Linked DNA regions of Homo sapiens. The protein of the gene in region 1 interacts with the protein of each later gene in a biochemical or structural test. Each region holds a gene or a part of one and is shown on either strand. Other genes may lie near its edges. The genes, in order: STX2, SNAP23 and SYT1.

Evidence for each region.
Region 2: the proteins of STX2 (region 1) and SNAP23 form a complex in vitro, tested with the Homo sapiens proteins (2 studies listed by BioGRID).
Region 3: the proteins of STX2 (region 1) and SYT1 form a complex in vitro, tested with the Homo sapiens proteins (one study listed by BioGRID).

Annotation. Positions count from the first base shown.
Region 1 is NC_000012.12:130,799,821-130,810,132, forward strand, and holds part of STX2 (syntaxin-2), read right to left. Parts: intron 8,885-10,312; coding exon 8,811-8,884; intron 7,271-8,810; coding exon 7,162-7,270; intron 4,724-7,161; coding exon of another isoform or gene 4,680-4,723; exon of another isoform or gene 4,273-4,679; coding exon of another isoform or gene 4,137-4,272; exon of another isoform or gene 3,833-4,136; intron 1,669-3,832; coding exon 1,595-1,668; intron 1,471-1,594; coding exon 1,333-1,470; intron 1-1,332.
Region 2 is NC_000015.10:42,525,498-42,535,734, reverse strand, and holds the end of SNAP23 (synaptosomal-associated protein 23), read right to left. Parts: intron 7,474-10,237; coding exon 7,315-7,473; exon of another isoform or gene 7,264-7,314; coding exon of another isoform or gene 7,234-7,263; intron 6,061-7,233; coding exon 5,916-6,060; intron 4,323-5,915; coding exon 4,257-4,322; 3' UTR 2,677-4,256; downstream 1-2,676. UniProt on the Homo sapiens protein: Essential component of the high affinity receptor for the general membrane fusion machinery and an important regulator of transport vesicle docking and fusion.
Region 3 is NC_000012.12:79,293,114-79,303,425, reverse strand, and holds part of SYT1 (synaptotagmin-1), read right to left. Parts: intron 7,358-10,312; coding exon 7,190-7,357; intron 4,043-7,189; coding exon 3,875-4,042; intron 1-3,874. UniProt on the Homo sapiens protein: Calcium sensor that participates in triggering neurotransmitter release at the synapse. May have a regulatory role in the membrane interactions during trafficking of synaptic vesicles at the active zone of the synapse.

The DNA.
Region 1 (10,312 bases):
AAAAAAAAAATAGGCATGGTGCCTGAGTTTTTCACACACATTCTCATTATAAAGTTCTTCAAAATACAGTGTTTCTTAACAAGGTTGCTGAAGCAGGCAGGAACAATCCTGTGTGTGGATGGATTCCTATCCTTACACAATCCAGGCAGTCTCAGAAAATAAGCCCATCAGATGTGAACCTACTTAGGGGATGACTCCAGCCAAAACAGATCCGAAACCAGGCTCAGGACAAGTGAGGAAACCATTTACTTAGGATGGTTTGATATAAATGCTTCCGCTTCACCTGGTGGTCAGCTGAATCCTAACCAGCAACAGAGTCTTATCTCCATGGTATTTGAAAAATAACGAGAAGACCTTATTCAAAGACAAAGAGCGAGTGTGAACATACCCATGCACATCACAGAGCATGTGATCTGTGATCCATCCCGTACTTTACATGGAGAGTTCAATATATACATACATACATATATATGTGTGTATTTTTTTTTTTTTTTTTTGGAGACAGGGTCTCACTCTGTCACCCAGGCTGGAGTGTAGTGGCATGATCATAGCTCACCACAGCCTTGAACTCATGGGCATAAACAATCCTCCCACCTCAGCCTCCCAGAGGAGTTTTCTATTTATTAAGAATTGCATTAACTCTTCGGTTCACTCAGAAGGGCCTTTCCACACCTGCTTTCACTCCCTATCTGTGTTACTGGGCAGATGGGAAACCCCGTGTAACAGGCACAAGCTTGCATCTGTGTCATAGATTGTATCCCCACTTGGGGTTGATTCTTTCAGACATTTCTCCTAGTTATTACTGTAATATATGCTTCTTATAGAAAATCTGAAAATAAATACTTTTAGAGAAGATTAAAATTCCCATAGTCTCACTGCCATTACACTGTTTGATATACGCCTTTCCTTCTGTGGATACTGTTTTATGGAGCCAAGCTCGTGCCATGTGTTTGTGTTTATGTACTCATACATATGTACGGGCATACACAGAAGATCTTTGTATCTCCCTTTTCTCTTAATTCTAGCACAAACATCTGCATATTTCAGTAAGAATTCTCCATGAACAAAGTTTAGGTTGCCTATGGTTGCCTAAAAGGCTGACCTATGAACACTCCATAATTTAATCAACTGAACCAGTCCCTTCCTGTTAACAGTTCAACTGTTAAAGCTGCTTCCAGCATTTCAGCATCACATATAACACTGCAATTAACCTGAATTTGGTGGATCCAAAATAACAGCTTTCCTAGATACATCCACTAGACAGAGTGGGATGCAGTAAGATTTTACACATGACTGATATCTCTCTTGGAGAATGCAAGAGTCTGTAACTACCTGAGTCTCCACAAACATAGCCATGTCCATGAACATCTCATGCAACTCTCGGATGCTGGTCTCCAGCTTCATGATGTCCTTGTGACGTGACTCGATTTCATTGAGAGCTTGTCTAGTAATTTGTGAATCTGATATAATCTTGGAAAAACAAAAATAAAAGATAATATTAATAAACTTATGATGGGTTTGGAAGTTAAAGGGTTTTTAAAAAGCTCTGTCTACAGAAGAGGACATGGAGCCACAGGGCCGCACCCCCACTCACGTCGGAAGTGAAGATGGATGGCTTCCCGCTCTCCAGCATCTCTTCTAGCTCGTCGTCTGTGGTGGTTCTCCCAGCTGAAAGACCCGCAACCACAGCCCCACTCAGAATGCAGCACAATTTAAAAACAAAGCCATTTGCAACCATAAGTTAGCAACTACAATCATAGTTGTTAGCATTTTTCAGTAATTTTTTTAACCTTTTCTTAAGCAGATATTGACAATGAGAAGTGAACCTAAGATTGAGGAGCAAGAAGAAATAAAAATACTCCGAGAAACTTTGTAAATGTTATAAACAATAAAATTTCATTTTAATATTAGTGAGAAACAACTGCAGAAAGGAAATCGGTAAACAATGTCTCGGCACACTGGTTTCCCTAAGAGTTTAACTCCGCCTCATGTAAAAGGGGGTTGAGCTGAATGTAGCATGTATTAAATGAGGATCAATAAAGTCCACGTAATGAGAGTCAGATGCCTGAACACTTTCCATGTTTGGAAGTTAATGCTTTCCTTTTGAGTTAAATGTGTAATGACTTCGAAGAAACATGTACACAGGTTTTGGAAACCTAATTGTTAATTACTATTTTTCATAGTTTGTGCCACAGAAGACAAAAGTAAATGAATAAATGTCATAATTCAAATGTCATCTAATAAGCAGCATTATTCATAATTGCCAAAAAGTGGAAACAACGCAAACGTCCGTCCCCCGATGCCTGAAGGAGCTAACTGCGGTCTAGCTGCACACTGACATACGACTCAGCCACAAAAACAAAGGACGCTTTTGGTTTTTGTCGCTTTGTTTTTTGAGACAGGGTCTCACTCTGTCGCCCAGCCTGGAGTGCAGGGGCACCGTCGCAGCTCACTGCAACCTCTTCCTCCCGGGTTCAAGCAATTCTCATGCCTCTGACCCCTGAGTGGTGGGGACTACACGCGTGCGTCACCACGCCCGGCTAATTTTTGTATTTTTAGTAGAGGTGGGGTTTCACCATTTTGGCCAGGCTGGTCTCGAACTCCTGACCTCAAGTGATCTGCCCACCTCAGCCTCCCAAAGTGCTCGGATTGCAGGTGTGAGCCACCGTACCCAGCCCTTTTTATTTTTTTAACAAAGATACGGTCTCACTCTGTCACCCAGACTGGAGTGTAGTGGTGCAATCTCAGCTCACTGCCGCTTTGACCTCCTAGGCTCAAGCAATCCTCCTGCTCCAGCCTCCCAAGTGACTGTGATTATAGGCACACACCCATGCCTGGTTTATTTTTATTTTTTTTTACAGAGATGGGGTTTTGCTATGTTGTCAAGCTGGTCTTGAACTCCTGGCCTCAAGCGATCCTTCCACCTTGGCTTCCCAACCAACACGCTGGGATTAGTATACATGTGAGCCACCACACCCTGCCCACCCCATGGTGAAACCTTGGAAAAACTGTGTTACAGGAAAGAAGTCAGTCACAGAACACATAGTGTATAATTCCATTTATATGAAACATCCAAAATGGGAAAATGTACAGGAGTAAAAAGTAGAATGCAGTTGTCTTGGGCTAGGAGAGGAAATGGGGAATGACTGGTGGTGGGTGTGAAGTTTCTTTTTGGGTTGATAAAAGTGTTTTAAATTGATTGTGTGTGGAAATACACCAAAAACCACTGAATTAATTGTATGCTCCAAATATCATTCACATATTAAGAGATTTACTTCTCAATAAAGTTGTTGAGATGTCATTTAATGAAAAAAGTTTTAAAGTTAGTAAATTGCAAAATTTGTTTACTTACACTATTTTTTGGGAGGTAATTCTCAATCATTTAAAAATCTATTTGAGAGCACACATGGTGGTTTACATGTATAATCCCAGTGCTTTGGGAGACCAAGGTGGAAGGATTGCTTGAGGCTAGGAGTTTGAGACTAGCCTGGGCAACACAGCAAGACCCTATCTCTACAAAAAATAAAATAAAACTTAAAAATCTATTCAAAATAGCTCAATAAGGAGATTCTCTGAGTTTTGCTTTGCTTTTTTAAAAACATGAAACTTGTTCTAAATAATGTAAAATATAATCATCAAAACTAGAAATTTCAGCTTGGGCAACATAGTGAAAACCTCGTCTCTACAAAAAATAAAATTAGCCAGGTATGGTGGTGTGCTTCTGTGGTCCCAGCTACTCGAGAGGCTGAGGTGGGAGGATCCCTTGGATCCAGGAGTTCAAGGCCACAATAAGTGGTTATCACAACACTGCACTCCAGCCTGGGTGACAGCGTGAGGCTCTCTCTCAAAAAAAAAAAAAAAAAAAAAAACAAACTAAAAGTTACAGTTCATGTCTCACGTTCACAAAGGTCTTCCCACCGGCTAACTGCTAAGTCTAAGAAACAGCCTGGGGTTACAGAATGTGAAATGCAGTATACATTCGTAATTCCTTATCCAGAATGCTGAAATCCACAACATTATGAAAACTGGGTTTTCCTTAAGCTCGATGTCAAAATTCAATGAGCGGCAAAATCTGACCTAAACTGAGTCATGGCTATTTATAATCTTAACTCCTCCCCCTTACTGTGAATACTCACATTTCACTGGAGAGCTGTGTGAATGTGCCTGATTACAGGGTGCAGTCCTAGACCCCACCTGGGGATTACATAATACACCTCTTATACATTGTACTATCTTCCTAAAATCTGAAAAATTCTGAACTCTGAAACACATACAGCCCCAACCATTCCAGAGAAAGCACTGTGGACCTATGTAACATGCCCTGGTCCAAGAAGAAACTCACTTGCCATTTGAAGAAACAAAGCATACAGCACAGGAAAAGATATCCTGTGATACAAGGTAAGAAACCTGCCTGATGACAGGGCTGACGGAAGGAAGAAAGAAAGGGGACAAAATGGTTTTAGGTGCAAGGATTTGGAGAAGACCACTGTATGAAGACAGCCCGCTGTGTGGCCAGAGTGACGCCATCCTGAAGCAAAACCACCGTGATGACCGATGCTCGACTCGTGCATGCCAAGCTGTTCTGCAATGAGGTCTGAAGACGATGCCTCCGGCACAGGCAACCTCTCATCAAGATGCTCATCCAGCCTGACCAGTGGTCCCAAGTGTTGTCAAGCAAGTCAGAAGACAGGGCCGGCTGCACACGTTCTACCCTGAAAGCCTGCTGTATAAAGAACACTTTCTGAGGGCAGGCGGCTGTGGGGTCCACCGTCTCTGTCTCTCGGGGGCTTCTGTTCGTACGTCCCTAGCCAATGTTTCCTTCGAGAAACTGGATTTGTTAGCCTCTTTCTTTGGCGTCTCAGCTCGCTCAGCCTTTGGGGGTGAGTTTGCATAGACCTGCTCACTTCGGAATAGCCACATGGAGGGTTTAGAATTTAACAGACTTAAAGGAATTACTAAAAAAAACTCCCAACACGTATATGATACTTCATTGCTTATAAGACACTTTCACAAACAGTACTGCATTCGATAGAGTATGATTGCAAGAGAAGAAACTGGAAATGAATTCTGTGGGCTGAGATAGAATAATGTGGGAAAGAGAGAAGAGACTTAGGCGATCTGATCACGCCACCGGATTCACATGGGGAGTGAAGACAGGATGGACCTGCAGGAGAGATGGTGCGGGGCCTTCAAGCCCAGGCTGGGGAACTCTGTGCTAGAAAAGCGCTCACCACAGAGTCCCAGAGCATAAATCCTCACAGTGCAACCGGCTGCCTGTAATGATGACTTTCACTTTAAAAAGTACTAACAGATCCCTGAAGTCAAAGTGGTTTGTAAAAACTTTTTCATAGAAAAGCAGTCTAGTCGACATCATGATTGAGCATTTCTGCCAGGATGGAGCAACAGGGACCGTATTTTCCCTGCCACTTGAAATAACCACAAACCCACCAAAATCTACAAAACGATTTCCAAGACACTGAGCATCAGGCCACACACTGATTCCCAACAGATGGAAACAAGCCAGGTGAGCCTGCTGCTGCCCTCAGACGGAACTCTCGTGTCAGCCACAGAGCAGAAAGGGCCCAGGTGGAGCCCAGGGGAAGTCCTAAGGCAAAGGCACAGAGCTCAGGGGAGACCAAGGCAACTGGATTTGCAAGATGGAGTATGAGAGATGAGAGAGATGCAGAGAGCGAGCTGCACAGACCCCGCATGCTCACTGGAGTGCTGACCAGCATGCCAGAGGGAACACGCTGCCAGGCAGACGAGGGTGCCATGAGGTTCACGGCCATCAGAGCAGGTGCTCAGAAGGGTCTTACCTCAGGAGTGAGGAATGACAGGCCCTCAAATAAAGCTGCTCTGCTCCCTCTAAATGCAAGATCCCAAAGGCTAAACCATGCTCATGTGATTTAACTACATTCTAAAACAAAGCCCAAGGAGATTTACAAAAATACTCAAAATACAGAAATACTCAGCACCCAACAAAGTAACGTTCACAATGTCTGGCACACACTCGAAACTTACCAGGCTCGCAAAGAAGCAGGAAAACACAAGCCACAGAAAGGAAGGAAATCAACCAACCAGAGCAGACAGGACACTGGAGTTGGCAGACAAAGACGGTTCAAGTTACTACAAGTGCGTCCCAGTTGTACAGTGGGGAGCAACACAGCAGACATGTAAAACACCCAGCAGAACTAGCAACAGAAACCAGTGTCTCCGATGAAACATACACCAGAGGAGGTTAAAGGCAGATCAGACAAGCAAGAGAAACTGACCAAAACCAAACACACTGGAAAAGAGTATCTAAAACATGAGGAGCCTCGCTGAGCTGTGGGACAAGGTCAAGCGGCCTGGCGGGCATATGACAACATTCTCTGAGGGGGATGTGCGGCGTTGGGAGCCGGGATGGGCCTGAGGCTTCATCTGACCTGCGAGCTGACACGCTGGCCTGCCAGGGCTCCGTGGGGGCCGGCAGAAGGTCCAAGGCCCCAGGTCAGGGACAAAGGGATTTCCTACTCACAGCACAGCAGGCAACCTGAGGCTCATGAGCAGCTGTCCACGGCCCCCAGTCTCATGGGGAGAGGCAGAGCAGCTGCAGTGGGACGTCCTCACAGTGGGTTTGTGTCACAGCTGAAGGACCCGAGCTTGGGAACCCCAATCTTTCACAATGGGGAGTCTACAAACCTGACCAACCTTTATCCCTGAAACAGACCCGTCTGTCCCCGAAGAAGGCGCCATCTCCACTGCCACAGCCAACTGTCCCCATAGACACCCCTGAAAAGAGTCTGGGGCAATAGGGCCGCTGCCTCTGCTCACAGACAAGGAGAGATGTGAGGAGCCATGAAGATGCCCCCGAACCAGGGCAGGGCGGGACTGAGGACACAGAAACACTCAAAGAGGAAATGACTGAGCACTCTCCCAATCTCCCTGAAACTCTAAAAGCAACAGCAATGAGCAAGGTAAACCCCACCGCTTAGGACTTCCTGAAGACAGGAAGAACAGGTTTGCCTGACTCACGGCATAGGAAGCTACGAGTGGTCTTTGGGTTTTACACTATTGGTGAAAATAGACATGGATTTCCTTTTCTGAAGTTAAAGTCATTTGAAGTGAGACCTTAAGGGAGAAAAACATGATTTTAACAAAGACGGAGTCTCCATTACTCACTTATCTCCAGCTGGCGCTGGATGCGGCCTTTGCTCCGCTCCCGAAACAGAGTCTGTGCCTCATTGTACTCCGCCATGGCTTCCACAAACTTCCGAGACAGCACCGAATGCTAACAACACAGGAAAACTACATTCGTATCTGAGGGCCATGCCTTCTACTGAAAGTGACATGCAAGACATGCATTTTGGAAACTCAAACTACATGTTATTCTGCTCCTGCAAATGGAAAATGACAATGGCAAAGTCCCCATGGCAGCATCTGTGCTAAGAACTTTGCATGCATGATCTTACCTAATTTTTACAAGACCCCTACTATGCCGGTCACAACCCTACTTAAAGAAAACCATGACTTTGAGGTCATTAGCCCAAGGTCACAGGCTTTTCTGATAAACACAGATCAGCACTGGGACCCAGGCAGGTGGACCCCAGAGCCCGCGTGCTTCATCGCCTTGTGCCCATGAGGGGACCCAGGCAAGCGGACCCCAGAGCCCGCGTGCTTCATCGCCTTGTGCCCATGAGGGGACCCAGGCAGGCGGACCCCAGAGCCTGCGTGCTTCATCGCCTTGTGCCCATGAGGGGACCCAGGCAGGCGGACCCCAGAGCCCGCGTGCTTCATCGCCTCGTGCCCTCGAGGCCTCAGGGCTCTGTCTTCCTCTGGGCAGTACCACAAACCACTAAAACGTGGCGGCCTTACCACAAACACTAAAATCATTTGGATAATTCCCTACTCTTTGGAATAGAACTCTGTTGATGGACCGAATAGATTTTTCTTCACAATAAAGAGATTTCTATAAATACTGTGAAAGGAAAATAAAATCGCAGGACCTCACACTCACTATCCCAAAGGGACAGTTAAGCTTGGGAACTGAGTCATGCAAAACACTGCCCTCCCTCCTCTTCTCAAACAGATGGCTGCAGTGACAGAAGGCCGCACATCGCCCCAGCAGCCTCCTGCACAAAGTGCTCACAAGGAAATTCCTCGTAGGTCCCAGAATCTTTCAGAATCCATATCCCCCCCACCAAAAACTAACTCTAAAACAGAGTTCTGCAGAATCTCACCCTGACAATGTACATTAGCCGCTTACCTTCACAGGTACAGGACAAAGACAAGACTAGAAGTCACCCTCGGCCCACCCTGAGAAATGCATGTATAGCTCCTCCCTCACCTCAGGCTCACACTGGCCCACGTAAGAGGCGGATCTGGGCACGGGAGGAGTGCAGAATCGACCCCCACTCCTCTCTTCCCACATGTGAAATGTGAACGCAGTGAGCCCTGAGCAAAGCCTCACAGCAGTGTGGCCACCCCGCTGCCTACCCCCACTTTTTCTCTTTTTTTTCCCCTTTCCTCCTTCCTCTCCTGCCCGCTCTTTCCCCTTTAAATACTGAAGTCCTCAAAACCCTCTTCAGGAAAGGCACAAACCACAGATCCTACTCTAATTTGTATTTCTTTTCTCCAAGTGTGTCCTCAACTTTGGCAAAATAAACCTCTGTCTCAGATACTTTTGTTTTACAATACTATATTATTTTTGTGCAGAAATACTATGAGGATAAGCATGACAGTAAAGATGAAATTATTCAGAGTCTGCAAGAAGAAAGTAAAAACACTTATTCTGCGACATTACTTTAATCTAAACGAGGCTGATAGCAAACCTGGGTTCTTCGTATCCGAAGATCCACTGAAGTCCGGTTCCCACTCTCATCCTGATCAAAACTTTGTTCAATAGCTAGGAACAAATAGGAAATAATTACCTTCCAAATTTAAAAATGAAAATGTTCCAAGCCTGACTTCAAATTCCTTTTATTTCTTATCTTTGAAGTATCTTTATAAAACTAAAGCTAATGAACAAGTGACCTTCTAAAACAATCTACTAAAAAGACAATCCCTCAATAGGAAATTATTTTCTGAGACAAGGTCTGGCTCTATCACCCGGGCTGCAGTGCAGGGGCACAATCTCGTCTCACTGCAACCTCTGCCTCCCAGGCTCAAGCAGTCCTCCCACCGCAGCCTCCCGAGTAGCTGGAATTACAGGCGTGTGCCACCACATCCAGCTAATTTTTGTATGTTTTGTACAGACGGGATTTTGCCATGTTGCCCAGGCTGGTCTCGAACTCATGAGCTCAACTGATCCGCCTGCCTTGGCATCCCAAAGTGCTGGCATTACAGGTGCGAGCCACTGCGCCCAACCCCATCAAGAGGAAACATGTATATGTAGATACACACAGATATATATACATACACACATATATACACAGATACACACAGATATATATACACACATATATACAAATACATGGAAAACACACATACAAAAAAATGGAAACATAACCAACAAACTTTAAAACTGGGTACCACTAAAGGGAAAGGAGAAACAAGGGGACGATGAAGAAAGAAGCTAGACTCCGAATATGTTTTATATATTTGACGTCAGAATGACATAAATACTTCACAAAACTTAATGCAAAATTAAATTTAAAAAAATTAATCCCTAAACTTCAAAGAAAAAATAAAGCAAACCTAACAGTAAGTCAAGTTAATGATATAAACATACAGAGGAGCCGGGTGCAGTGGCTCACGCCTGTAATCCTAGCACTTTGGGAGGCTAAGGCAGGCGGATCACTTGAGGCCAGGGGTTCGAGACCAGCGTGGCCAACATGGTGAAACCCTGTCTCTACTACAAATACAAAAATTAGCTGGGTGTGGTGGCGGGTGCCTGTAATCCCAGCTACTCGGGAGGCTGAGGCAGGAGAATTGCTTGAACTCAGGAGGCGGAGGTTGCAGTGAGCCGAGATAGTGCCATTGCACTCCAGCCTAGGCGACAAGAGCGAAACTCCATCTCAAAAAAATAAACACACAGAGGAAAAACTATTCAAAGCAACTTTAAAACCCAGTAATTTGTAGCTGGACACAGTGGCGTGTACCTGTAGTCACAAGTGCTCGGGGGATCACTTCAGCCTAGGAGTTCGAGGCTGTAGTGCGCTATGATCACACTGGTGAACAGTCACTGCACTCCAGCCTGGCCAGCACAGCAAGACCCCAGGTCAAACAACAACAACAACAACAAAAAGTAATTTGATTATCTAGCCCAGTGGGATATACCTATAGACAAAAAGAATGACACAAAAAATAAAAAATAAACCTTTAAGTAATCATA
Region 2 (10,237 bases), on another chromosome or scaffold:
TCAAGTGAAAAGAAGAGTCATAGCCGGGCGCGTTGGCTCACACCTGTAATCCCTGCACTTTGGGAGGCCGAGGTGGGCGGATCACCTGAGGTCAGGAGTTCGAACCAGCCTCGCCAACATGGCAAAAACCCTGTCTCTACTAAAAATACAAAAACTAGCCAGACATGGTGGCACACACCTGCAATCCCAGCTACTCGGGAGACAGAGGTTGCAGTGAGCTGAGATCGCACCATTGTACTCCAGCCTGGACGACAGAGCAAGACTCTGTCTCAAAAAAAAAAAAAAAATGCCAAGACAGGCTAAAGGCTAGGCCTCTTACGCCGGTTAACCAAGTGGTGAATGCAAAGGAAAAGTTCTTGAAGGAAGTTAAAAGTGCTACTCCAGTAAACACAAGGCCCTAACTCCCTTCAATGCTATAAAGGCTGAGAGGTGAGGAAGCTGCAGAAGAAAAGTTGGAAGTTACCCAAGGTTGGTTCATGAGGTTTAAGGGAAGAAGCTGTATCTGTTAACATAAAAGTGTAAGATAAAGCAGCAAGTGCTGATGGAGAAGCTGCAGCAAGTTATCCAGATAATGATGATGGTGGCTACAGTAAACAATAGATTTTTCAATGTAGATGAAACTGCCTTCTATTGGAAAATGACACCATTTAGGACTCCCATAGCTAGAGAGAAGTCAATGCCTAGCTTGTTTCAAAAGACAGGCTGACTCTCTTGTTAGAGGCTAATAGAGCTGGTGACTTCAAGCTGAAGGCATTGCTCATTTAACATTTTGAAAATATAGGGGCCTTAAGAATCATGCTAAGTCTACTCTACCTGTGCTCTATAAATGGAACAATGAAACCTGGATGATAACACATCTGTTTACAGCATGATTTACTGAATATTTTAAACCCACTGTTGAGAAGTACTGCTCAGAAAAAAAAGTATTCTTTTCAAAATCTTACTGCTTATTGATAGTGAGCATCAGAGTATATGGTCACCCAAGAGCTCTGATGAAGATGTACAAGATTAATGTTGTGTTGTTTTCATGCTTGCTAATATATCCATTCTACAGCCCTTGGATCAAAGAGTCATTTCAGCTTTCAAGTCTTATTGCTTAAGAAATAAATGTCATAAAGGTATAGCTGCCATAGTGATTCCTCTCATGGATATGGGCAAAGTAAACTGAAAACCCTCTGGAAAGGATACCGTTAAGGACATTCATGATTCATGAAAGGAGGTCAAGATACCAACATTAACACGGGTTTGGAAGAAGTTGATTCCAACCCTCATGGATGACTGGGCGTTTGAAGACTTCAGTGGAGGAGGCCGGGTGTGGTGGCTCACGCCTGTAACCCCAGCACTTTCGGAGGCAGAGGCGGGTAGATCACAAGGTCAGGAGTTCGAGACCAGCCTGACCAACGTGGTGAAACCCTGTCTCTACTAAAGATAAAAAAATTAGCTGGGCACGGTGGTGCCTGCCTGTAATCCCAGCTACTCAGGAGGCTGAGGCAGGAGAATCGCTTGAACCCGAGAGGTGGAGGTTGCAGTGAGCCCAGATCACGCCACTGCACTCCAGCCTGGATGACAGAGCAAGACTCCTTCTCAAAAAAACAAAACAAAACAAACAAAAAAGAGACTTCAGTAGAGGAATTACAGGCACATGCCACCACACCCAGCTAACTGTATGTTTAGTACAGATGTGGTTTCACCATGTTGGCCAGGCTGGTCTCAAACTCCTGACCTCAAGTGATCCATCTGCCTTGGCCTCCCAAAGTGCTAGGATTACAGGCGTGAGCCACTGCGCCTGGCCCATGGTAAAGTATTTTAAATTAAGGTATATACATTGCTTTTTAAAGACATAATGCTATTGCACATTTAATAGACTACAGAATAGTGTAAACAGAACTTTTATATGCACTGGGAAACCAAAATTCATGTGCCTCACTTCATTGCAATACTAGCTTTATGGTAGTGGTCTAGAACTGAACCCTCAGTATCTGAGGTATGCTTGTATTAATCTGCATTTACAGACAAATTAAGGCACAGAAATGATCTTACAGTCACTTCAGCTAGAGTGAAAATTCAGATAATGCCTCAGCCCATGCTTCTAACCAATCATACTGTGAGTGTAGCATGCTGGTATTCTCAGAACTATTTCCTTTATCCAGAACAGTGCTAAAATTTTTTTTTATGGTAAATGGTTTTAGGAAAGGCATTTAGGTAAAGCACAATCCTCCGTTTTACACCTTACTTTACATATTTACCATCCCTGCCAAACCACTCATTTTGACATGGAGCATTTCTATTACAGAGGGTGTAGTTGCATCTCACTTTATTTAAATATTTTCCTCTTTAGCCTTTGAAAGCTCCCACATTAACTGTATCTTCTCCAGTGAGTTGTAGTTCTCACACAGAACCATTACCCTTCCAGTCACTAGTGTATTTAAGCTCAAGTGAGTAAGACTAGTAATGATTAAAATGAACCTCACAATAAATTTTTAGCAAGGTAAGTTTAAGTCCCATCAATATTTTCAATAAATACTGGAAAGATGCTAAAGGCAGCTTCCTGCTGTAGTGTTTCTTGATGTATGGATCTTTGCTTTATTAATTTGTTAAATGAGAGCTGATGAAACTATTTTCCCCCAAATAACAGTCATAGAAACATGTTACCTATTTGAAAGAACAATACCATTAGTTAGTTAAAAAATTTAATTGTAAGGATCAAGCAGTGGTTATTGGTGAAACCAATACACACTGACAGCTTTGAAGTGTTCAGATGCTAATTTTAAAATAAATGTGACAAATACCAATCAGATGTTCATAACACTTTTCAGGATCCACATCAACTTGATTATGGACATAGTTCAATACACAAGGGTAAGAGAAAGAGTGTGTAATCACCAATAATTAAACCAGAGGCATAATTTTTTCAAATAATTTTTAGTTACAGAATAAATTCTAACTTTTTAAAGTCTAAAGCTACATAAAACTCAAAGCAATCTATTTTTCTACCTGAGGTCAAAATGACTTTCCTTTTTCCTAACTAAACATAATTCTTAGCATTGAGGTAAATCTGAATTCATGTGGTATGCTTTGTCAAACTTTTCCAAAAAATTTTAAGCCCTGCTTTAGAGAGAAATTCTCATGTTACACATATATATTTACATATTTTTTCTTCAAAGACTAATGACAATGTATGATGTTAATAGGCCTGTAATGGAACCATGATACTACTAATAATATGAAATAAAAAGCCACTCATTTATATAAAGTGTTCCTGAATGGTGCAATAAGAAATGGGATCACAGATTTATGTACATATATGAATCACTAAGAGTTCAGAAATTAAGCTCACTTTAAGAAAACTCAGCCAGGCACAGTGGCTCACGCCTGTAATCCCAGTACTTTGGGAGGCCAAGGCGGGTGGATCACGACGTCAGGAGTCCAAGACCAGCTTGACATGGTGAAACCCTGTCTCTACTAAAAATACAAAAATTAGCCGAGCGTGGTGACACACGCCTGTAATCCCAGCTACTCAGGAGGCAAGGCAGGAGAATTGCTTGAACCAGGGAGGCGGAGGTTGCAGTGAGCCCAGATCGCGCTATTGCACTCCAGCCTGGACAAGAGAGCGAGACTCTGACTCCAAAAAAAAAAAAAAGAAAGAAAACTCATTCTATTTTTCTCTTTGGAGCAGAGGTTGCAAAACTGTGATGCCTAACAAAAACGTTGTGTATAAAAGCTCCAAAACCAAGCATTAGCCTAAATTGGCTATAACTGCAACTTAAATCAAAAACTATATCCAACTAGATCTTCGTTGTGGCTATGCAACTTTTTGCTTTGTGGCCTGAAGGTTTTTACTGAGGTAACAACCTCTTATCTCTTGTCCTTCCCTCAACCACAAAAGCAAAAATAAACAACAACAAAAAACACCTCTACAGCTTCCTTCTTCATGGCTGTCTTTGGCAATGCTTCCAAATCTTGAAAGCAAAAGAACCTGCTGAAGTATATGAGGAGGATGAAAACACTAAACATGACATATGAAAACCAATCTAAGCGTATGAATTGAGAAAGAAAATACTAGAAGGAAGGCAGAGCAGCAGTCGGCCCTCAACAGAAAACAAAAAAGAAGGAGGGCTGTAACTGCTCTGGCCCTTCTTCCATATTATCTCCCAATTAGAAGAGCGTGGAACCGAAAACTTAAACTCTGAAAAGGTAATAACTTTCAAGGAGGAGCTACGGAAGTGAATAAATGATAAAGAAGAACAGCAGTAGCTTTAGCTGTCAATGAGTTTCTTTGCTCTGGCATTGGCAATATCAATACGATCTCTGTTGGTGTCAGCCTGAAAAACAAGAAAGATATCAGCTTTACAAGGTAAGTAACTCTAATAAAAATTAAACTTTTTACACTTGGAGTAACTGACACACCAAGAAAATCCAAGAAACCACGTGAAGTTACATTACAAAACTCATGTTGGGCAAGAAGTAACAGAATATGAAATTCATTTGGAAAACCCCTGGTATATAAACATGACAAAGGTGTAACATATAAGACCTTGCCAATATTTCATAAATTCTATAACGCATTTTTTCATAGTTTAACATGCCTGAAACTGGGATGCATCCTGTAATCAATGGCATTTTTTGATGCAATGAAATATGAAAGAGTGCTCTTCTCTGTTAAAGATCTGGACCTTGTGTGAGTCCTCTGAACTGAATCATAGAATCTCATCTGGATTCAGACACCCTAAGTCTAACCTGGAGAGACTGAAATAACCTTTCCAAAGATCTTTGAAACGAATCTATTACCATCCTCACCAACATCTGAATTAAAATGACAGGTAAATATAGCCTAAACCCAGACTGCAGCATTTAAAGCATCTTGTGAACCACTGTTTCAATTAAATCCATCAAAAGTGATTTAACAGAGAGCCAAGCTTAAAAACTCACCCTAAAGTTCACTGAGATTTTAATGAGGTATGACTTTCTTTTTTTCCTTTCTTTTTGAGAAAGGGTCTCACTCTGTTGCCCAGGCTGGAATGCAATGGTGCAATCACAGCTCACTGCAGCCTTCAACTCCTACACTCAAGCAATCCTTCTGCCTCAGCCTCCCGAGTAACTGGGACAATAGGCACATGCCACCATGCCTGGTCAATTTTTAAATTTTTTTAGTAGAGTCGAGGTCTTGCTCTGGTCTCAAACTCCTGAGCTCAAGCAATCCTCCTGCCTCCGCCTCTCAAAGTGTTGAGATTACAGGTGTGAGCTACCACGGTTGGCCAAGGTATGACTTTACATGTGACACATCAAAACACTGAAAACAATTTCGCTTTCACTATATTTATATCATGTAAAGTTAAGGGGGAAAAAAAAGAATCACAACTTTCTTTCACTCACATGACTCTATTTCGTGTGTCCACTCCATAAGAACTATTCTGCAGAACAGATTTTCACCTACGGACTCTTTCATGAGATGAGGATTCAGGAACTTAATTTATTTTTAGTTAACAAAATAGGCTGATGTGGGAGGAACGCTTTAGCCTAGGAGGCAGGCTGCAGTGAGCTGTGATTGTACCACCACACTACCCTAGGCGACAGAGCAAGACCCCATTCTCAATTAAAAAATTAGTTAACAAAATAAAACTCATTTGGGAGAGAAAAAAACACGCTCAAAAGCTAAAGTAGATACTAAGCTTCATGTGTGAAGGTTTAAGTAAAACTACTATATTCCAAAACTCTGGTTTCAAAATGCACCAACTACCATGACAGGGAGGACTTGGCTCTTGTTTTATGTGTTAGAACCACCACCTCATCAGAATTAAGACCTATGAGGACAGGAGCTTATTCTACCGTGTCCCCCACAGTATCTAGCACAGATGTCTATTACTGAAACACTGAACTGGGTGTCTCATTTTCTTGTGGCAATAAAAAGCTTTTACCTTGTCTGTGATTCGTTTTATTTGTGGATTTTGAGCATCAATCTCATTGCCTATGTTCAGGGCCATGTCTTTTAGATTTCCCAGGATACTGCCCACTTGAGTCAGGTTCTCTTCCATTTCATCTTCTCTGGCATCATTAGTTATGCTATCACAAGAAGACAGTTAATTCCATAGGTTTTGTTGAATTTAAATAAAAGTCTGGATTTACTTTTCACAAAAGTAAGTAACCAAAATGACTCTCAGCAAGTATAAGATCCAAAAGAATATAGGTTACCATTCCTGGGAAACATTCTATAATAAAAACTGGGAGACTCATCAAAGAGAGCACAGTATCTTAAAGCCATGTAAGAAAAGAAAGAAACTCTGAAACAGTGTTTCTCAAAGCTTAATTCCCAGCATCACCTGGGAAGCTGTTAGACATGAGAATGCTAATTCTCACACTCCATTCCAGACCTACTCAATCAGAAACTGTAAGTGCATCCCAGAAACCTACGGTTTAATAAGCCCCTCAAGTGGTTCTAATGCACAGTTAAGTCTATCTAAAGAAGCACTGCCCTAAGAGAGAGGTTGGAAAACTACGGCCCAAGGACCAAATCTGGCCACCATATGATTTTGTAAATCAAGTGTTATTCAAACACAGCTGTGCTCATTTGTTTACATATTGTTTATGCCTGCTTTAACCCTACAACAGAGTTGAGTAATTGCAAGGGACTGTATGGCCTGAAAAGTCTGAAATATTAACTCTCTGGCTCGTTACAGATCTTCTTACAGGAATCTAGCTGACCCTTGTTCTAGATGACACATTTTAAAACCTATTTTTTTCTATATATAAAAGTAAAATATGTCTAGTTCAATAATTTGGAAAGTACTGAAAAGTATAAAGAAAAGTTAATTCCATCACCCAAGGTCAACCACCACAGTCAACATTTTGTCTGGCCAGGTGTGGTAGCTTATGCCTGTAATCCCAGCACTTTGGGAGGCCGAGGCAGGTGGATCACCTGAGGTCAGGAGTCCAAGACCAGCCTGGTCAACATGGTGAAACCCTGTCTCTACTAAAAATACAAAAATTAGCTGGGCGTGGTGGCGCACACCTGTAGTCCCAGCTACTCGGAAGGCTGAGGCAGGAGAATAACTTGAACCTGGGAGGCAGAGGTTGCAGTGAGCTGAGATCACGCCACTGCACTCCAGCCTGGGCAACACAGCAAGACTCTGTCTCAAAACAAAACAACAAATAAAAAAAACCCACATTTTGTCAGTGGGCAGATTTTTAAATGCATTTTAAAAATGGAATAAATACAATTTTTATTTGTTTTATTAGGGGTCATGTACTGCTAAACTCATCTCCTAAGTGAACCATTCATTAAGAAAGGTACAGGAATATCAGGAGGAGTTGGCATACCGTTTAATGTATCCACCACTGGCTGCTCCCGTTGTTGGTTGCTGAAGCTGACCATTTGTCACCGGGCCTGGCTGTTTAGATACTACATTGCAAGGTGAGTTTTCTCCACCATCTCCCCATGTTGTCTTATAAGCCTTGCCAGACTCAAAGTTCTTTGTTCTATATAAGAGTCAGGAGTGTAGGGAGATACCAAAAAAAAGAAGACGGAGAGTTCTAATTATTAGTGCCTGTTACCTTGAGGATGACACTAATAACTCTAGTAGAAAAGCTGCATACAGCTAAGTCTAGATGATCTACACTATGCTCCATGGCAATATGGAATAGGAAATAGATGAATTATGTAAACCCATTGACACTAAAAAAAATTTTAAAAAGGTCCAAATACTACTTCTACCAAATCTTCACTAGGCTGTTAGCAAGTAGCAAAAGGCAACTATTTGATTTTTCAGGTTCCCTTAGCCTCTGGCACTATCGTTTTGCTTTTCTCTTCCTAGTGTATCCAGCACTATCTAGAAAAGAGGTTAATGCACATTACTTAAAAAAAGGTCCCTTAGAAAAGGTGTTCTGGGATACCTTAAGAGGTTCCTTGAAGGCATCTCAGAGGTTGACAAGGGATGACAGAATAAGAAGGCTGATGCTGGGTGCAGTGGCTCACGCCTGTACTCCCAGCACTTTGGGAGGCCAAGGCGGGTGGATCGCTTGAGCTCAGGAGTTTAAGATCAGCCAGGGCAACACAGCAAAAACCCATCTCTCAAACTCCTGACCTCAAGTGATCCATCCACCTCGGCCTCCCAAAGTGCTGGGACTACAGGCTCGTGAGCCACTGCTCCCTGCCTCAAAATGCCATCTCTATAAAAAAATACAAACATTAGCTGGGTGTGGTGGCACACGCCTGTGGTCCCAGCTACTCGAGAGGCTGAGGTGGGAGGACTGCTTGAGCCCAGAAGGTCGAGGCTGCAGTGAGCCATGATAGTGCCACTGCACTCCAGCCTGGGTGACAGAGTGAGACCTAATCTTAAATAAATAAATAAAATTTTAAAATAAGAAGACTGAATTTGAACCAGCGTAGTTCCAGCTGATCAGTTTTTATTAGAATTTTCCATGAAATTTTAAACAATGGTTTCTTACAAACAAACCAGCCATCAGGAAAGAAAGGCATGAATAATTTCCAAATTGGACAATCAGCGGACAAATAAGTACCTTGACCACACAAGCGGTCATTCATAAATCCTGTAGTGTAGGAGTTTTTCATTTAAGAGTTTCCTCTTTAAAAAAACGATCAAGGCCGGGCACAGTAGCTCACACCGGTAATCCCAGCACTTTGGGAGGCCAAGGTGGGTGGATCACCTGAGGTCAGGAGTTCAAGACCAGCCTGGGCAACATGGTGAAACCCCATCTCTACTAAAAATACAAAAATTAGCTGGGTGTGGCACCACGTGCCTATAATCCCAGCTACTGGGGAGGCTGAGGCAGGAGAATCGCTTGAACCCAGGAGGCGGAGGTTGCAAGGAGCCAAGATCACACCACTGCACTCCAGCCTGGGCAACAGAGCGAGACACTCCATCTCAAAAAAAAAAAAAAATCATAAGTCTAAGTGTCTTAAAAAGAAAGAAAAAGTGGCTATTACAGGGAAAAAAAAATGGCTGTTACGGAAAAGTGACACAAAACTTTTCTTGATTATTTGGCTAAAGTCAAGCTTTCATTCAATTTTAGTTTTCACTTTTCTATAAACAAAAACGAAATAGTATGTTGCTCAAATATTGATCTCTGATTTATTCTACATTTTACATTAATAAGGAAGTTTTAAAATTGCAAAAATTAAAAAGGTAGGGAAGAGATTTTATGAAAAAAGTGACTTCTTCCTTAATAGGCATGTGAGGATTCATTTTCGGCAAACCTAGAATTGAATCTTAGACTTTATCATTAACATTACAGAAAGGATACTACTAATTTTTTTTTGTGAGAGGCATTGCAAAGGCAAATTTATGAACACTGAAGAGCTAGTTCTCCAAGTGTGTTTCATGGTACCACTTTAAGTTATCATAATTATGTTTCTATGCTGTTTTTATTAATTAACCCATTTATTTATTAAGAAGCCATGTTAAATTTTTCTTGGAACAAGGTAGGATATATATTTTTAAAATAAATATTCACATGTATTCTTTGTTAATAATAAGAAAGGTCCCAGGCAAAATTCTAGAGCAGAGTAAGTGCTAGTAAATAAAACAAAAGCAATATATTAGTTTATCAGAAAGTTAATAACCACAAATATTAACAGAAGTAACAGAAGTGGGGCTTTTATTAGAATTTCGGATTGTGGAACAGGTGCAAGAGAGAAGGTTGAAATTCCAAAGTAACTAATGAGATATTATGTTTCTGACAGCACAAAAAGAGGAGTGGACTGGGACATGACCTTGGGTTCTGGTCTATTAAGGAATATATATGCATTCCAACCTCCTTCCCAACATTAAGAGGCAATATTTGAAAAAATTCTTTACACTTATGAGAATTCTTCTTTCCACAATTAGATATAAGGGCATAAAATGCAAATGAATTGTTTAAAAATGATCATGTGAATGATTTTTAATTGAAACATAGTCTATAAACAAAGAATCAGATTGGTTATCAAACTCTGCTGTCTTTAAAATGACTGGATCTTGGCCGGGTGCGGTGATTCACACCTGTAATACCAGCACTTTGGGAGGCCGAGGCAGGCAGATCACGAAGTCAGGAGTTCGAGACCAGCCTGGCCAACATGGTGAAACCCTGTCTCTACTAAAAATACAAAACTTAGCTGGGTGTGGTGGCGCTCGAATGCAGTCCCCGCAACTCAGGAGGCAGAGGCAGAAGAATCACTTGAACCTGGGAGGCAGAGGTTGCAGTGAGCCCAGATCGTGCCACTGCACTGCAGCCTTGGTGACAG
Region 3 (10,312 bases), about 52 Mb from region 1:
GCGGAATGTTAAAAAAAAAGGCTTAGTTTTTTTTTCTGGTGCTATCTATTCCTTATGCTGTTTTTAGAGATAACAAATATCAGTAGAAGGCATGGAGATAAAAATAAACTTTATAAATAGGAACAAAATGTTAAAATAAAAAGAGTTTAAATACTTTGATGATATACCTGATCCTGGGGTGCAGAACTGAGACAATTTTAAAACTGCACATAAGTGAAATTTATAAGAAGGGAAAAATGGAGTCATAGCTGTTGCTTGTAATGTTTGAAATAATTAAGTCAAAATATTAAATAGATTATTCTAAAAAGATAAAGATTGGTTTCAGGTTTGACTTGTGTATACAATAAATACTTATTTTTTGAAAGATTAAAGAGAAGAAAATCTCAAAGATTCAGCTTGGGGCTATACATATTGGTAGCCTTTTGCACACTGAAGAATTATATACTGATTACCAAGGATGATTTTGAAGCCATATACTGAGAAATAAAAAAATTAAGAAACAACAGTTTTATATATAACCATCTCTAGGAACTCAGAGGATACATATTTCTGTTTTAAAGAAACAAAAACAAGAGAAATGTTGACCTGTCTCCAAGGTCAAATTCCACCTTCATCTATTAGAAGGTGGGGAAGTGGAGGAAGAAAGTAGTCGACCGTGCATCACTGAAAAAACAAACCGGCAAGTGAACGGAAACCAGTGAGGTGGCTTTGATTGTGTAAATTTGCGGAACACGATCAAGCCAAATGGAAACCTCACCAGTGATGTTTCCACCTGGGGATAGAATCGAATAGTGGGAACAATGTGCTTTTGTTGTGGCTCTTCCTGGTACACCTTATCTCTTCCACATCACTTCCTTTTAAACATGGGCCTAGTCACTTCCAAATGAGGCTCTTACACTATCCATGTTCCTTCCCATTTCTTTCTAAATTGCTTGCACATTATTTGGTCGCTAAAATAGTACATAATCCTTTAAGTTACACAATTACTTCATCATCTTATGACTTATAGTTGTCAACTTTCTGGCAATAAAACCTTACTCCATTTAATTAACATCACAGAGTTGGCTGTCAGTGGGTTTGATTTAACCTCTTTAAATCCAAGTCTCCGGCAGAACAGCTTACTATGATTAGCAGTACTTGTTCTAGATTCCAAAGCTGTTCCTTGAACTCCTTTTTCTCACTTTCTTTGATATCTTTCATCTCATTATGACATTAAAAATAATGCTTAACACTGCTAGATGAAAGCAAAACTAAAATCATGAACAAAATTGCTCATGTAAAGTGGAAAAACAATTTCTTTAAAATCATAAAACTAAAGTCAATCTAAGACTTCAATTTATTCACACAATTATAATTTTCTACAATTAATGGACAGTGGCATGAAAAGTTAGAGCAGATATCATTGAGAATATGTAATTCTTCAGATATAAAATGCAAGTGGAATCTTACTTCCTTTATAATGAAAAAGTTTCTAACTGGGTCTAGTCATCCAGAGATACTTTGTAAGCTAGACATCTGTCTTATACAGTTTTTTATAACCTATACCTTGATAAAGAGAAATAGTCTAACTGAAAACCAAAAATTTCTATTCCTGAGTAGAAATCAAAGAGGAAAGTCTCTAGAGTTTTACGAGTGTAATGATAAAATTAATATTTCCCATTAATAACTCCTACAGATACTCAGTAAGTGCAATGGTGAGAAAAAGGATAGCGAAGTAGATAAAAATAGAGGGAAGAGACACAACAAATGAGGAGATGAACACACAAAATGGGGAAAGAGAACACACACACAAAATTAACCAAGAAAAAGGTATGAGAGACCTCTCACTTAGTGAACATTTACCATATGCCAGACTCTATGCTGGGTACTTCATGTTCTATTCTATTTCATCGGTAAGTAAGATAAGGGGTAAATCATGTTAGGCCACTTTCTAGGTTAAAATTCTGAATGGGCAGTTTACCTAAACCCCTAGATTCTAGAGTGAAACCCGTCAGCCTGGTGTTAAGTTTCAAACTCTGCTCGTACTCAAAGATTTCTGAAAGAGGAAACTTGCTCAATGGTCCACATTCCCTTAGCTCAGAAAAAAACATTGCACAATTTTTCAGAAACCCACTGGGTGTGATCTTGGATGTCATTACCACCTGATAATTATCCAGGTGAAAGTAACAAGTGTGAACCATGCACCCTGCACAAGTGGGCATTGTGAAGTACCAGTGGTTCATGTTCTCATATTCAACCAACAAGCCAACCAAACACCAGTCAATTAATAAAACCAATCAGTTAATAAACATTTCTTATGGTCCTACTTTATCACCCAAAAAATTTACACAAAGTCAAACACTTCAACAAAAAAGTCAATGAAACATCCCACTACTTTGTTAAATAATTATAAACATTGTAACTGAATGATCGAATTTTTTTTTTCATGAAGATGTCTGTAACATTACTATTAGTTCACTTATAGGAAAGAACTATCCATAAAATCATATAATTTTAAAACTCGGTATTTTTCCTGGGTATTCTTGAATATCCACAGTAGGGCTAAATCTGTGTCAATGTCTAAGAAAGGTTAGTCAACATTCTTAGATATTGAGACAGTAAATATATATATATATATATATATATATATATATATAATAAGTATACATGAATATTATATACAAAAATACTTAAGCTCTGCTCTCTTTTTTGGAAAGTATAAGTATACATACTTTTTTCCAAAAAAAAGAGCAGAGTTTAACTTAAGTATTTTTGACTCATTTTGTAAAATCAAATAGCAAACAGCAATGTTAGAGTGAAAAGTTCAATTTCAGCATGGGAATTAATAGGCCTGTTCTAAAACCTCATTTCATCATATAGGGGGTATAAAGTTCATAGCCTCAGATTGGTCACAGAAAACCTTAGGCTGAGAGGATTCCCAGGTGATGGACTTGATTGAGTTTCTCTGAAGGCCTGACGTTCTCTCTGATCTCCCTGGTGACCCCAAGAGGCCAGGGAATCCTAGGGACCTGGAGATCCTAAATGACTGAGCTGTCAGCAATCTCTTGCGTAATTACAGCCTTACGTCAGGAACTAAAGAGTGACTGCGAAAGGAGTTGTTTTAGGAATTTGGAGAAGCTAAGGGTTGTTTGCTTTTCTAGTATTGGTCTACTGAAATGTTTGCAGAGAAAAATGCTGGTGCCAGGCAGGCATCGCATAATCAGATACAATTGATTATTATGAAGCTTAAATGCACTAAACATATTGAACTTCCCTTTTCAAGTCATGGAAAAATACTGGGCTAAACTATTAAAACTGGGAATAAACAATGTGAGGAGTAGCATAAAAATGTGAGTCATTTAAAAAATGGATTTAATATCAGGCTTTGTGAATTATATTTGATGTTTGACCAATCATGCTCTCGTATCTTTAGGAGAAACAATGAACTGTCTGTGATATGCAGAAACAATCAAGGAAAAAGTACCATTTTATTTCTGTGTAATAGCTACATAACCTATGCAGAAAACACAAAATGATTGTGGAAAAATGAGAAATAAAATAATTTTTCGTTGTCATTTTAAAGCAGTAGTTTATGAGTGTGTGTGGCCTTTTGTAAGCTTTTAGAAAGAGTTCCTGTGGGCATGTGTGTTTGTTTGTGTCCAGGGTTGCTGTTTCTAGATCCAGTACACAAATGTCTCTCTTCTTTCAGATAACACCCAGAAGACCTGTACACTTTTTAACGAGGTGGTGCAGTGCCCTTGACCCTATTTTATCAGCTGTCAACAACTAGAGGCCCACATCCCCCTTTGTAAAGAGTATTTCTCAATAAGTTATTATATGAGCAGCAACTGGCGAGTACAGCTTGTGATGTTAGAAATGCTAGTAATTCCCTTACCTCTTCCTTCTCAGCACTTTGCAGGTCACGCCATTCCTCAGTTACATGGCCAAAATCCACTGTGTTCATAGGGACTTTAAATTCTCCAATGATGTCATGCTTAGAGAAACGATCAAAATCATATACAGCCATCACTAGGGTTTTGCCACCCAATTCCGAGTATGGTACCTAAATTAAAAGACATGAGGATAAAATATCCAGTCACAAAAATGCTTAAAACATGTTACTTGTTCATGGTGCTTAATTTAATATTTACGTTGCATAAACAGAACAGGGAGATAATTTTGTTTTTGGTTATTTTTTAAATTCAGACTTTTGACAAACTGCTTGAGGCTAAAATTACTTGAGAGAAAATGGGAAATTTTAGTGATTTATTGCCTTATCTCAAAGTTCTAGAAGCTGTTAGCATTATTAATAATGGATCCTGCTGTTAGTTATACTATAAAGCCTTAAGATTAATAAAACAATAAACAAGCCAATTGCATTTGACTATAAGTAAGTTTTTCTTGTAGAATATTTTGTTGTTATTGTTGTTTTAAGTTGTATTGTCAGGGTGTAACTTACTGAGGGGCAAATAACTTATTTCAAATGCTCCATTAACTCTTTCAAGGCATTTAAATGCCACAGTTCAATGGAGCAATGATTTATTAAAGGCTATGCTAGGAGTCTGAAAGGATTGAAATGATATTCACAAGTGCCTCACCTACTCCCTAAAATAATTTGCTGATTGACAAGAACTGACTAGGAAATTGATGTTTTGAATATAAGAGGTGCATTATAATATGGGTTTTGAAGTTCATTCTTGGGTATGACATGCCTTAGGATGAGTGGTGGCAAAAGGCCAAGAACTGATGAATTCTCCAGCTGTTCAAATATATCTGGGACAGATGCTATGGGTTGGGATGTTTATTAGTGACATTTTTAATATTCAGTGAAAGCAGTGCAATCCAAGTAAGCTACACTTCAGTAACTGGGTAGAAATACCTAATTAAGAAATTGTTTAGACTTGTCTTAAAGGTTTGATCAATTTTCATACACTTCCTATTATTTTATCAGTGTAAATGGTTGTCTTATGCTTCAGCAAACATTTCTCAATTAACTCTGTATATTAAGGAGGGAAGAAAAGGAAGAATATTGGGCCATCTACATACAAGAAATTTTAGTTTTCCAAAGAGTTTTTCTTTTCTGTCATTTATTTACCATCTGTTTGGAACCTGATTATTTTATTAAAATGATATGATTAAAAAGTAAGCATCATCCTTTTTCCATTTTAGAAGGAATGGAAAATAAACCCTTCCAAAGAGCTGACTCTCAAAGAAAGAAACAAAATTTTTTAGAGTAAGGATAAACCCTTGAAAATGTTATTGTATATCTAAAATCTCTCTAGACTTTCTAGTGATTGTACTCAAAGAGCAACAGTCAAAAACCTGGACTTGGGGTCAGACAGACCTTGTACCAGATTTGGACTTTCCAACTAAAGGGCCTGGGGCACGTGATTAAACATAAGTTTATTCATCTATTAAATTGTGATAATACTGTAATAATGGCTGCTTCATGGGGCTATTTTAGGGATGAATGAATATATGTAAAACACCTAGCACAGAAGAAGCACTTAAAAATATTTATTGTTTGAATGATTAGTAGCTCCTTCAGATAACTGTTTTGGGGGAAAAGAAGATGAATTAATTTGGGGCATGTTGAGTTCCTGTTAAGTGATTTAAATCCATTGTAAAGCCAGGCTTCTTTAAAGTCTTTTATACTTCCATTCCTGTATCATATTGCCTCTTGGCATTTCAAGATGAGTAATCTACAATGTCTAACCAGTTCTCTAGAAAAATTGAAGTATTTTTTAATATAGCAGAATATATTATACTTTGGATTTATGTATAGTTTGATCAACCTTTCTGAAATAAAATGAAACTTGATAAAAATGTATAGAGAATTCAAAAATTTCAATAATTATACTTGGTTTTATAGAAATTACTAATAAAATTATTAGCATTTTTTAAAGAAATAATAATGTAGGTAATGCAATACAAAACAAAGCCCCAATACATTAGCTCATATAATTTAAGAATTTCCTTACTAAGTTTTGGTCAGAAACTGCTGACCTAAGTTAAGGTTAATAAATAGATGAATAAAACAACTGTGATTACTATTACAATATTTTTAAAATTTTATTTCCATTTTACGTTTCGTAGTATGTTGACTATAGTGATTAAGCTTCATGAGCAGATACTCTTCATGAACTGAGTATTTCCAGAATGTCTTTACTGCTACTTTAAATTCACTGCTTAGGTACAGAAAAACCAGATTTTAAATAAGATTACTGACAATACATGAGGGACCTTTGTCTTGAAAACTCAGAAATTTTAGAGTGAATAGAAAGACACTTCCCCTTTACATAATTGAAAACAAGGTTTGAGAAAATGACTCATGCCCTCATTTTCAATTTATTTCATCCCAGAATGTTTGCCAACACAAGGCATATGCTAAGCCTGGCTGATGGACGTGGTGATTTTGAATTAGCCTGCTGGCATATTCACAGATATTTCATTTTTCAGAAACATATTGTTCTAAGTAATGCATTAAAAAGTTTTTTTCGCACGTTAAAGATATCCACCAAAAGAATTGTTTTTAATGAATGATTTCAAGCCAAGATCCACGAAGATCCTGGAGACCTGCAGGACATGTTTTCCTGATGAGATATTATATGGCTGGAATCTCTCTGTTGTTTGTCAACTGAGGTGCCTCAACAAGATGAAGAACATCAGGGCAGAACCTAGAGTAAAGGAAGAAGGCTAGAAATGCAATAAAAAATATGTTCATATTCCTTTTATTGATTAGTTAAGAAGAATGACTTTGAAGTGCTCAAATTGCCCTCTACACACACAATTTTGTTACAAGAGTCATGTCTATTTGTACCATTTAAGCATTGGGACACAGCTTACTTAATCCTGGGATTGTAACAGATGTACTTATTTTCACAAACTTTGAAATTCAGAAAAATAATGATTTCATTCCTTTGGCTTTATTTCAGGGAGGGATCTCACTTTTTAGATGTGACTATGACATCCTAGTCATGTTCTAGTCCATTCCATTCTGAAATGACTGAACCGAATCCTACTCTGAACACGCTGAAAGGCAATATCGAATGTTGACTGTAGTGAAGATAAGAATTTTGCATATTCTGACTGGAATTATTGTGAGTGCCTGAACAAGCATTCATGTGCATGTCTATGTATGTGTCAGGATGAGATCAGTCTTTTAAGTAAAACAACAAAGGAAAGGTTATAAATAAATGTTAACAAATACCTTGAAAGTAAATTGCTCATTGAAGACAGGATTAAGGGTTTTTCGGTGGACTTTTGTCTCAAATTTCTTCTTCTTATCAGGTAGCAGAAACACTTTCACGTAAGGATCAGATGTGCCCCCCATGTCCAAGGCGGGCAGTTCGGCAGCCTGAATGATCCCTACCAGCAGCTGAAATAAATGACAGAATACAGCATACATAAATATCAGTGGACATTTTGGAAAAGATCGATTTGTTCACAATGCTGCATATTGGGATTTCTCCCTCTTCCTATTTATTTTTAATAAAACTCTGATTCTCTTATGAATCTGAACACAGAAGGCAAATGAACTGAGCTATGTAGACTTCAGAAACCCAATTATGACTGATGCAGGCTCTGGGAAGCCTGGTTTTAAGCACAAAAGAGGCTTTTAAAAGGTTGCTGATTGCAGTTAAATATGGAGTTCATTTTTGCAAAAGAGTTGTAATCAAATAACTTTCCAGTTGCTAAAAGCTCTTGTGCATTGTTTTTCTTTCCAGAGCATGATTTGTAAGTGAAAATGCATTGTTAAGCAATCACAAGTTTGTAATTACAAAGTGGGAAACTTTTATTCTTTATCAAAGCCTCAGGCTAGCTGAGTAGAAATTTCTTAGAAATTGGGTAGCATTTTGAGATAAAAAATAAGATCTTCTAGTTTCTATTATATTTGACCTTCACTGGTGTGCAGACTACATTTATTTTAACTTACAGTAGAATGATTATTATCTATGAGATTCTGTGTTTAAATATAGGACACGGAGTAAAAGAAATGTAATTTCAGCTTCATAGAAAGCAAGGGAGATTAGAGGTGAGGTTTTTTAATGGTGAGTAACTGTGTTTTTTATTTTTTCCAAACACCACAGAACTATTACATTTCTTTAAGTCTGTTTTCTTACTGATGCATTCTTAAGCCTCATTATGAATATTAAGGTATTATGGTATGGTTAATATTTTTGCGAAGAAAAAAAGAGGTGTGAGTAGACTATCATAGATACTCTGCCATTAGAGATTTTGTGTCAACAGACTGATTTAGATCCATATAGGTAACAAAGCAGACTCTTACTGTTATTCAAGGTATATGCTATTTTGTAAATGCAGTAACACCATAGGTTTTTACATCTCAGCCTGAAAAATCTGAGTTCATGCCTTTTTAGCTAGTAGAGTAAAAAAGCAATTCCCCCTCTTAAAAAAAATGCATAACCATTTTAATTGTGACCCACCGTGTACTTAAGTGCATTTTGGCTAGGTGGCTCAACTTTTAACATGGCCCAATAACCTGAATGATTATGTTGTTTCTATTTTAATGCTTCAATATCTTTTTTTTTTTTTGTGGAATCATGATACAACAGTGGCAATAAGAGTGCTAGATTGTAGGTAAACAAAACACAGACAGATGGTCAAAAAACAGCTAAAATAGGCATCGGATTATAAAGACATGATTAGTAAAGGAAACAGTCTGTCTCTTTGTTTGCTAAGTAGGTATTTGGTATTTACCTTTATGTAGTAATGCGAATAAGTAAGATTCTACTTCCTCATCCTCACTTTTTATAACCAATTTTCTTTTGAGCAGAAAAAATGCTAGAGAGATGGCTTAAACTCTTTAGAAACTAGATGATTTATAATTTAGAGTTTTTGGATATTTTGTTAATAAAGAATGAGGTTACTTTTTACAACCTTGTTCTGACTTCTGCCTAAGAGATAAATATCACATTTCTCTGTACCATGAAAGCGTCTTAATTAGAATATTTTAGGGTTGTCTTTTAGTTTTGGTAAACATATATTTGATCCAAACTTTATGAAGTTTTTCAGACTTTAACTTCCTGCTTCTTAGGAATCACTTTATAAATCAAATTAACTGAGAACATTTGGGAAAAACCAATGTGTAATATTTTAAAAATTCATCAGTTTCTCAGAATGAAATAACTTTTTAGATTTGATGTTTGCTGAAAAGGGAACAGTAAATGTACTCTCACTATATTTTAGTAAAAAAATTCTCAGTGTTATTATTTATTTTCTTAAAAATACTACTTTATAAAATGATACTTATAGTATTAATAATTAAAGCTAACTTGAAAGCTTCAAAATTATGACTAATCAGAATGAGACACCACTAGATTTCCACTGGAAAATATGAATGGTCAATATGATGAAAAAAATACTGGATGCATATAGAAAGCCAGATTAAATTTTTGGAAAATATGTTATATATTAAGACCAATATAAGTTGTCCTTGATCTTTCCTAGAATATATAAATAAGAGGTTTTGCTCCTAACCAAATCCTGATGCTCAAATTTTCATAGAAGTGATAGAAATGACCACAAATATCAGATGTAATTAACTAAAAATGGTATAACTACAAACCTGAACCTGTAAACCAATAATGTAGTTTTCTAGAATGTATTATGTAATAACTAGCCAGGGCTATAATGAAGCTGATCAAAAAATTATTTTTAATATGACAGTATATTTGTACATCCTTCATGAGGAACCCTCTGGAAACTTTAGAAAGTGAAGACATTATTAGAACTGTCAATTCCTAAATAAAGCACAGAATTTCTGCAACTGCTTAGAGCTCTCACAGCATTACTGACTTTGGATGTTAGTTATCAAAGATGAGCATTAGTGTTTCATTTATTTATTGTTCATTTCTCATCAAACTGGAAATCATTAGCACATGCTGCATTACTAGTAACTGTATTTATTTTACATTCATCAGTTCTTTACCCAAAAAGATGAGAGAAGCAAAATGAACTGGAGAGGTTTAAAACTTTCCTACTTGGAGAAGGGCTATGTCTTACAGATTTTTTAATTTTATTTTATTTTATTTTATTTTATTTTATTTTATTTTATTTTATTTTATTTTATTTTATTTTATTTTATTTTATTTTATTTTTTGAGATGGAGTCTCGCTCTGTCGCCCAGGCTGGAGTGCAGTGGCACGATCTCGGCTCACTGCAAGCTCTGCCTCCCGGGTTCACACCATTCTCCTGCCTCAGCCTCCTGAGTAGCTGGGACTACAGGCGCCTGTCACCACGCCCAGCTAATTTTTTTTTTTTTTTTTTGTATTTTTTGTAGAGACAGGGTTTCACCGTGTTAGCCAGGATG